2 linked regions of the Homo sapiens genome follow. Each later gene encodes a partner of the first gene's protein in a complex. Each region holds a gene or a part of one and is shown in the gene's direction. Other genes may lie near its edges.

Region 1 (3,749 bases):
AGCTGAGATTGTGCCACTGCACTCCAGCCTGGGCAACAGAGCAAGACTCCATCTCAAAAAAAAAAAAAAAAAAAAACACACACACACACACAAAAACAAAGAATATTAGAGTTCTTTTAGGGGAGGAAGCATGCACTGAAAGATCAGTCACCTCAGGAAAGGCAAGGGGTCTCATAAAGACCACAGGCCTGACAAGGTTAGAGGATTGGAAGGTCAATGGGCCATGGGGAAGTTCACACAAGGATCTGGGGTTACAAGGAAAACAAGAAAATGAAAGTGGCCAGGCAGTAAGTTGGTCACAACCTCTCACCTGGGGGCTGCTGACAGGCCCGGAGAATCCTGGGGGAGCTGGAGGGGGCAGACCAGGGGACCCCATGGAAGAACTGATGACTGGAAAGGGAGAGCCCAGTGGGGGTGGTGGCATCGGGGGTGGGGGTGGGGCCCCAGAGCCTCCAAGGGATGGAGCTGTTGAAGGGGGTAGGGGTGGCCCAGGAGGAGAAGGGGGAGGGACTCCCTGGGGAAGGGGATTTGGGGAGGAGCTGTCTGGGCTTCGGGAGTCTGAGGGAGGGGTATGTACAGGCACACAGACACACAAGAGACAGAAGAGACAAAAAAAGAAAATGAGTCTTCAAACATCCAACTAGAGACTTTAATTCTCTAATACCCCACCGTGCCGGACCCAGCCCACTCCACCCATCCCCAAGTTCAGAGACACCCTGCTGTCAAACAACAGTGTAACTCCGGCTGGTCCGATGGTAGTGGGTTATCAGAACTTATTAACATTTGTGTCACTAAAATTGGTATACAACCTCCCACTGCTATATTTGACTGGCTAAAAAAACCCAAAAACAGCGTAACTCCTCATTGTGGTGAGAGGAGGGAGTTGACAAGGAGAGGAGGATAGTTCAGGTGAGGAAAATTTTCCAACCAATCCATTTGAATGAATACCAGGTCATCCCAAAGCCACACCTGTCTCGTGGGTGGGGCAGCACGTGGGGTAGACCATCGAGCCCCTCTATTCCCAGCGTAAAGCCAGGTAGCCAGAGCGTGCAAGGGAAAGAGACAGGCAGGAGAGACCCCTCCTAAGACGCAGGATCTGCCTGTAAACGCCCAAAGTCCTGAGGTTTAAGAGGAATCGTGCCCTTCCCAGGCCCGCGACCTCCGGTGCCCAAGGCCTCAAGCGGTCACAGCTAGGAGGGCGGAAGCTCCCCTTCCCCGCCCCGCCCCGGGGGGGAGGGTGCTAAGGCCCTCGGGAGGGAGGGGACGCGTGTTTACAAACAAGGGGGCGGGAGCGCAAGGAAAAGAGCACCGGGGGAGGGTGTGGGGGAGGGGTCGCAGATAAAGCGGTCACTGGCTCGCCTGCCCTTCTGCTGGGGCACTCACCCCGCCCGCTGTCGCCCATCCCGTCCCGTCCAGCCTCCCCTGGCTCCGGCTCCGGGGTTTGTTGTTCTCCGCCTGCCACCGCCGCCGCCGCCGCCGCTGCGGGATCCAGCCAGGGCCGTCGCCGCCGCCACCGGGACGCGACCCCACAATGCATTTCTTTTCGCACCCCCACCGGCCCACACTGCCCTGCGGCATGCCGCTGAGGGAGGAAGGGCGGGCGAGCGGCCCAAGACATGATCCCTGGCTGAGAGTAGGGATACCGAAGAGGTCCCAGGGATTCCCAAGGATTGATCGGAGGATTAGCTGAGCACGAGGAAGCCCCTGAGAGAAAGACTCTGGCCTGGATTGGGTCGAATTAAGCCCGTCGCTCTGCTCAGTACCAAAATGACAGCGCCAATGTGGCAGCCATCTTTGTACAGACGGGAAGTCTCGGCGCGAGTTCCCGCCCCCTCGTCTAGTTGGAAACCGAGGAGGCGGTCTCCTCCGGCCTGTTAGCCCGCCTCGCCCACCCTCCCCTCAAATCACCTCCACACTCGCGCATGCGTGTCAGTGCAGGATGGATTCGTCGCTACCGGAGTGCCGCCATATTGGTAAAGGCATTAGGGCGAAGGTGGAACGGAACTTCCTGTTCTCGCGGGATCTAAAGGCGGGACTGCCACGTCCAAGCAAACCGGGAAAGGAGAGGATCCCGGAGCCGGTGAGAATTCTCTGTTTTTTCTCTACCATCCTTTCCAGGCCTTTTCCTCACCTAATGAGTCGTAGAGACGAGGGCCCAGAGAGTCTGTAAAGTGGCTGGTGAAAGATTAGTGTCCCAGGGCCCTACATCCGGGAGGTGGTTCGGGATAAAGAGAACTAGTCTTGGGAACAATGTAGGTGGGAACTTAAGGGAATGGGAGAGCGGCCCATAGAGGTGGACGGAGGGCGCGATTGGAGTAAAGCGGACCCTGTGTAGGTATAGAGTTGAGTCAAGTGGAGTCACTGCCTCTGTCCCTCTGGTCAGCGTGATGGCCAGAGGCCTGGGGGCCCCCCACTGGGTGGCCGTGGGACTGCTGACCTGGGCGACCTTGGGGCTTCTGGTGGCTGGACTCGGGGGTCATGACGACCTGCACGACGATCTGCAAGAGGACTTCCATGGCCACAGCCACAGGCACTCACATGAAGATTTCCACCATGGCCACAGCCATGCCCATGGCCATGGCCACACTCACGAGAGCATCTGGCATGGACATACCCACGATCACGACCATGGACATTCACATGAGGATTTACACCATGGCCATAGCCATGGCTACTCCCATGAGAGCCTCTACCACAGAGGACATGGACATGACCATGAGCATAGCCATGGAGGCTATGGGGAGTCTGGGGCTCCAGGCATCAAGCAGGACCTGGATGCTGTCACTCTCTGGGCTTATGTGAGTCTCCAGGGGATGGGAGAGAGAAGGGCTGGTTCTGGATTGTTGGGAAACTCCACAGTACTTGACCTTGACTCTCCCTCACCAGGCACTGGGGGCCACAGTGCTGATCTCAGCAGCTCCATTTTTTGTCCTCTTCCTTATCCCCGTGGAGTCGAACTCTCCCCGGCATCGCTCTCTACTTCAGATCTTGCTCAGTTTTGCTTCCGGTGGGCTCCTGGGAGATGCTTTCCTGCACCTCATTCCTCATGCTCTTGGTAAGTAACCTCTGACTTCTACCTCAAATCTAACCTATTTCGTTCTTTGGAGGAAAAGGGTTCTTTCTCCTTTATGATCCCTGACCTTTCGATATTCCCCCAAATACACACTCATTGTGTCAGATATTCCCTCATCTGGTTTTCCCCCCTTCTTCCAGAACCTCATTCTCACCACACTCTGGAGCAACCCGGACATGGACACTCCCACAGTGGTGAGGAAGAGACAGATGGGGATGGGAGTTGGGGTGCTGGGGAAGGTCCGTCTCTCCCTATTCCTCACCTCCCGCACTTGAGGAGGAGGAGTCTGGAATGCACATCTCCCTTAATGTCTCAATGCCTCCATTCCCAGGCCAGGGCCCCATTCTGTCTGTGGGACTGTGGGTTCTCAGTGGAATTGTTGCCTTTCTTGTCGTGGAGAAATTTGTGAGACATGTGAAAGGAGGACATGGTCACAGTCATGGACATGGACACGCTCACAGTCATACACGTGGAAGTCATGGACATGGAAGACAAGGTGAGCCCAGGAACAACTTTCCTGAAAGCTGACTTGCCTGCCTCAGAATCTCCTCATCTTATGGCCCTCAGGAGGGAGAGGACATGTTGGAAGATCTGTTCTCCACTCTGACCAACTCTTTTCTTCCCTCAGAGCGTTCTACCAAGGAGAAGCAGAGCTCAGAGGAAGAAGAAAAGGAAA
Region 2 (3,749 bases), on another chromosome or scaffold:
ATCCCTGTCCTAGATAAACTAGAATTTCAGAGCTAGAAAACAAGTCCTAAATAGGGATTGCGCTTTATTTCCCAGAGTGATGCTTCCATGAGACTTGGCTGGACCTATAGTTGCTTTTCTGAGGGTTCTCTTCAATCTCCAGTTAAACTCCCCTCAGTCTCTTTTTTCAAAGGCATCACTATGGTTTTGAGTGTTTTCTAGGACCTTTAGAAATAATAGGACCCAGACAGTTGTAACCATATAAACTGACATAAGTACGAATCTACTTTAATGCATATTAACCGACATCACAAGGACCACTCTTTTCCCTCTTTTCTCTAGTGTCTCTTAAAAATCTGTTATACTAAAGCTCTTTTTTCCTGATCCATGGTTTAGTTCCATATTTGAAATCACTTTTTTTTCCTATTTGGTTTCTCTGCTACTGTGGTCTGGCTGTGTTAGCTTGTCATCTTTTTCAACTGATAAACATGTTTTCTGTTACTCCTTCCACTTTTCCTTCCTATTTTGACTTAAGTTCTTCACATTCATCTCTTACTTATTTCTTCTTCCTTCCCCTGTCATCCTTTCCACTTTCCACCTTTTATTTCCCTCCTCCCATGCTTTTTTGGGGCATTATTTGCAACTCCAAAGACAAATGGTATCTGGAGGCATTTTCTTATTTTATTAACTTTGTCTTCTAATCATAGAAATGACATAAAAGATAATATCTTTGCTGGGCACGGTGGCTCATGCCTGTAATCCCAGCACTTTGGAGGCAGAGGCGGGTGGATCACGAGGGCAGGAGATCGAGACCATCCTGGCTAACATGGTGAAACCCCTTCTCTACTAAAAATCCAAAAAATTAGTCAGGTGTGGTGGCGGGCGCCTGTAGTCCCAGCTACTCAGGAGGCTGAGGCAGGAGAATGGCATGAACCTGGGAGGCGGAGCTTGCAGTGAGCAGAGATCGTGCCACTGCACTCCAGTCTGGGCGACGGCAGAGCGAGACTCTGTCTCAAAAAAAAAAAGAAAAAAAAAATTAGGCCAGGCGCAGTGGCCCATGCCTGTAATCCCAGCACTTTGGGAGGCCGAGGCGGGTAGATCACCTGAGGTCAGGAGTTCGAGACCAACCTGGCCGACATGGTGAAACCCTGTCTCCACTAAAAATACAAAAAATAAGCCGGGTGTGGTGGTGCATGCCTGTAATCCCAGCTACTCAGGAGGCTGGGACAGGAGAATCGCTTGAACCCAGGAGGCGAAGGTTGCAGTGAGCCGAGATCATGCCACTGCACTCCAGCCTGAGTGACAGAGTGAGACCTTGTCTAAAAAAAAAAAAAATCTTAACCATGTAATAAGTGATTATGGTTGTTGGTGCTGAGTCACTATATTCACTTTGTGTGTGTATGTGAGGGGTGCTTAATTTGCATAGACACTTCCATTTTTGTCCTTTTTTTCTTTCAGGTTGCTAGGAAGAGGCTCAATGTTTGTGTTTTCACCAGATCAGTTTCAGAGACTGCTTAAAATTAATCCAGACTGGAAAACCCACAGACTTCTTGATTTAGGTGCTGGAGATGGAGAAGTCACAAAAATCATGAGCCCTCATTTTGAAGAAATCTATGCCACTGAGCTTTCTGAAACTATGATATGGCAGCTTCAGAAAAAGAAATACAGGTATAATTTTCTTGGTTTTAGATGCATTTCTTCTTGAAAGTATATTATTTAAAGGATATGAATAAAAAATGATCTTCCATGATTAGAAATTTAAAAAATCATCTCATACATAATTAACTGGAAATGTAGAGAAATAATCTTCTGGTAGCAGTATTTTTCTGGAGCGGAGGGGTTGGCACTATAGGTAAGAAAAGCACTAGCGAGAGACAACTTGGAAAAGGCAGATCAGAAGAAGGGACTTCTTCCCTAATCAGAATGTGGCATTCTCAAAAAAAATTTTTTTAAGTAGTGGTAAAATACACATAGCATAGAATTTACTGTTGTAACTATTTTTAAGTGTACAGTTCAGTGGTATTAAGTACATTTACATTGTTGCATAATCATCACCACTATTCATCTCCAGAAATTTTTGTCTTCCGAAACGGAAACTCTGTACCCAATAAACAATAACTCCCCATTTTTCCCTCCTCGTAACCCCTGACAACCACCATTCTACTTTGTCTATGAATTTGACTATTCTGGGTATTTCGTATAAGAGGAATTATATACATTAGCTCCTTGTGACTGGCTTATCGCATGTAGCATAATGTCTTCAAGGTTTACTCATGTTGTACCATGGGCCAAAATTTTCTTTTCTTTTCTTTTCTTTTTTTTTTTGAGATGGAGTCTTGCTCTGTCACCCAGGCTGGAGTGCAGTGGCACGATCTCGGCTCACTACAACCTCTACCTCTCAGGTTCAAGCAATTCTCCTGCCTCAGCCTCCCAAGTAGCTGGGATTACAGGCATATGCCACCATGCCTGGCTAATTTTTTTGTAGTTTTAGTAGGGATAGGGTTTCACTATTTGGCCAGGCTGGTCTCGAACTCCTGACCTCAAGTAATCCAAAGTGCTGGGATTACAGGTGTGAGCCACTGCGCCTGGCCCAAAATTTTCTTTAAGGATGAATGATAATTCGCTGTATGCATGTACCACATTTTGTTTACCCATTTATCTGTCAGTAGATATTTGGGTTGTTTCTACCATTTGGCTGTTGTGAATAATGCTGCTATGAACATGGGTGTACAGATACCGACTTGAGCCCCTACTTTTACTTCTTTTGGGTATAGACCCAGAAGTGGAGTTGCTGGATCACATGGCTAAGTCTGGGTTTAATTTTTTGAGGAATTGCAATACTTTTCCATTGCTGCTGCACCATTTTACATTCCCACCAGCAATGTAGTACAAGGGTTTCAGTTTCTCCACTCCTTGACAATACTTGCTATTTTCTGTTTTGTTTTGCTTTTAGTTTATAGTCATCAGTGTTAATCTTGGTTTTAAGGTCATCTGGAGTTTGAAAGACTAGGAAGAAGGGCCTTTTTTTTTTTTCTGGAGATGAAGTTTCACTTGCCCAAGCTGGAGTGCGGTGGCGTGATCTCAGCTCACTGAAACCTCCACCTCCTGGATTCAGGCAATTCTACTGCCTCAGCCTCCTGAGTAGCTGGGACTACAGGCACATGCCACTATGCCCGGCTAATTTTTTTTTTTTTTTTTTTTTTGTATTTTTAGTAGAGACAGGGTTTCACTATGTTGGCCAGGCTGGTCTCAAACTGCTGACCTCGTGATCTGCCTGCCTTGGCCTCCCAAAGTGTTGGGATTACAGGCGTGAGCCACTGCACCCGGCTGGAAGAAGGGTATTCTTATTTCAGTATGATTTATTGATTGGGAGATTTCTATATATTGGCTCAGTGCAGAATCAGGGAGGTAGAGCTGGAGTCAGCCTTTCTCTGTGATATTTTTGGAAGTCTGGTTAGCCTTAGAAAGAAAGGAGAAGAAATTATGTAATCACTCACTTTCCTATCCACATGTTTCTACTTTTACAGATTAATCCTAGAGATAGAGCATCAGTGTAGCTTTTGGAGCAGGACTGGTTTGAGCATTTGCAAAACATGGAGATTTTTAGCCTGGAGAAGGGAAGATTTCTGTGAACAGATACGCTGTGGGATTTTTATATGGAAGGAAAGGAATAGGTATAGTCTCTGGTGTAATCAGGCACAGCTACGCCTTAGAAGTTGAGTTACAGCTTAGGGAGATCGACCTTCCTAGCTTGAACTGTTTAAGTCCTT

The links.
Region 2: the proteins of SLC39A7 (region 1) and METTL9 are in contact, whole or in part, in a crystal structure (PDB 8GZE), measured with the Homo sapiens proteins. Residues at the interface, in NP_001070984.1 of Homo sapiens: Gly65, His66, Thr67, His68, Glu69; in NP_057109.3 of Homo sapiens: Arg114, Thr115, Asn118, Arg123 (codon at 1,448), Gly124 (codon at 1,451), Met126 (codon at 1,457), Met179 (codon at 1,616), Asn210, Asp213, Arg214, Val241, His245, Tyr247, Glu249, Trp255, Tyr295, Leu296, Cys297, Glu298, Asp300, Tyr306, Val307, Leu308.

Annotation. Positions count from the first base shown.
Region 1 is NC_000006.12:33,198,859-33,202,607, forward strand, and holds the start of SLC39A7 (zinc transporter SLC39A7 isoform 1 precursor), read left to right. Parts: upstream 1-2,008; 5' UTR 2,009-2,387; coding exon 2,388-2,798; intron 2,799-2,886; coding exon 2,887-3,055; intron 3,056-3,213; coding exon 3,214-3,267; intron 3,268-3,404; coding exon 3,405-3,569; intron 3,570-3,701; coding exon 3,702-3,749. Other genes in the region: RXRB (retinoic acid receptor RXR-beta), read right to left, coding at 311-558, 1,384-1,618. UniProt on the Homo sapiens protein: Transports Zn(2+) from the endoplasmic reticulum (ER)/Golgi apparatus to the cytosol, playing an essential role in the regulation of cytosolic zinc levels.
Region 2 is NC_000016.10:21,616,428-21,620,176, forward strand, and holds part of METTL9 (protein-L-histidine N-pros-methyltransferase isoform 1 precursor), read left to right. Parts: intron 1-1,437; coding exon 1,438-1,647; intron 1,648-3,749. UniProt on the Homo sapiens protein: Protein-histidine N-methyltransferase that specifically catalyzes 1-methylhistidine (pros-methylhistidine) methylation of target proteins.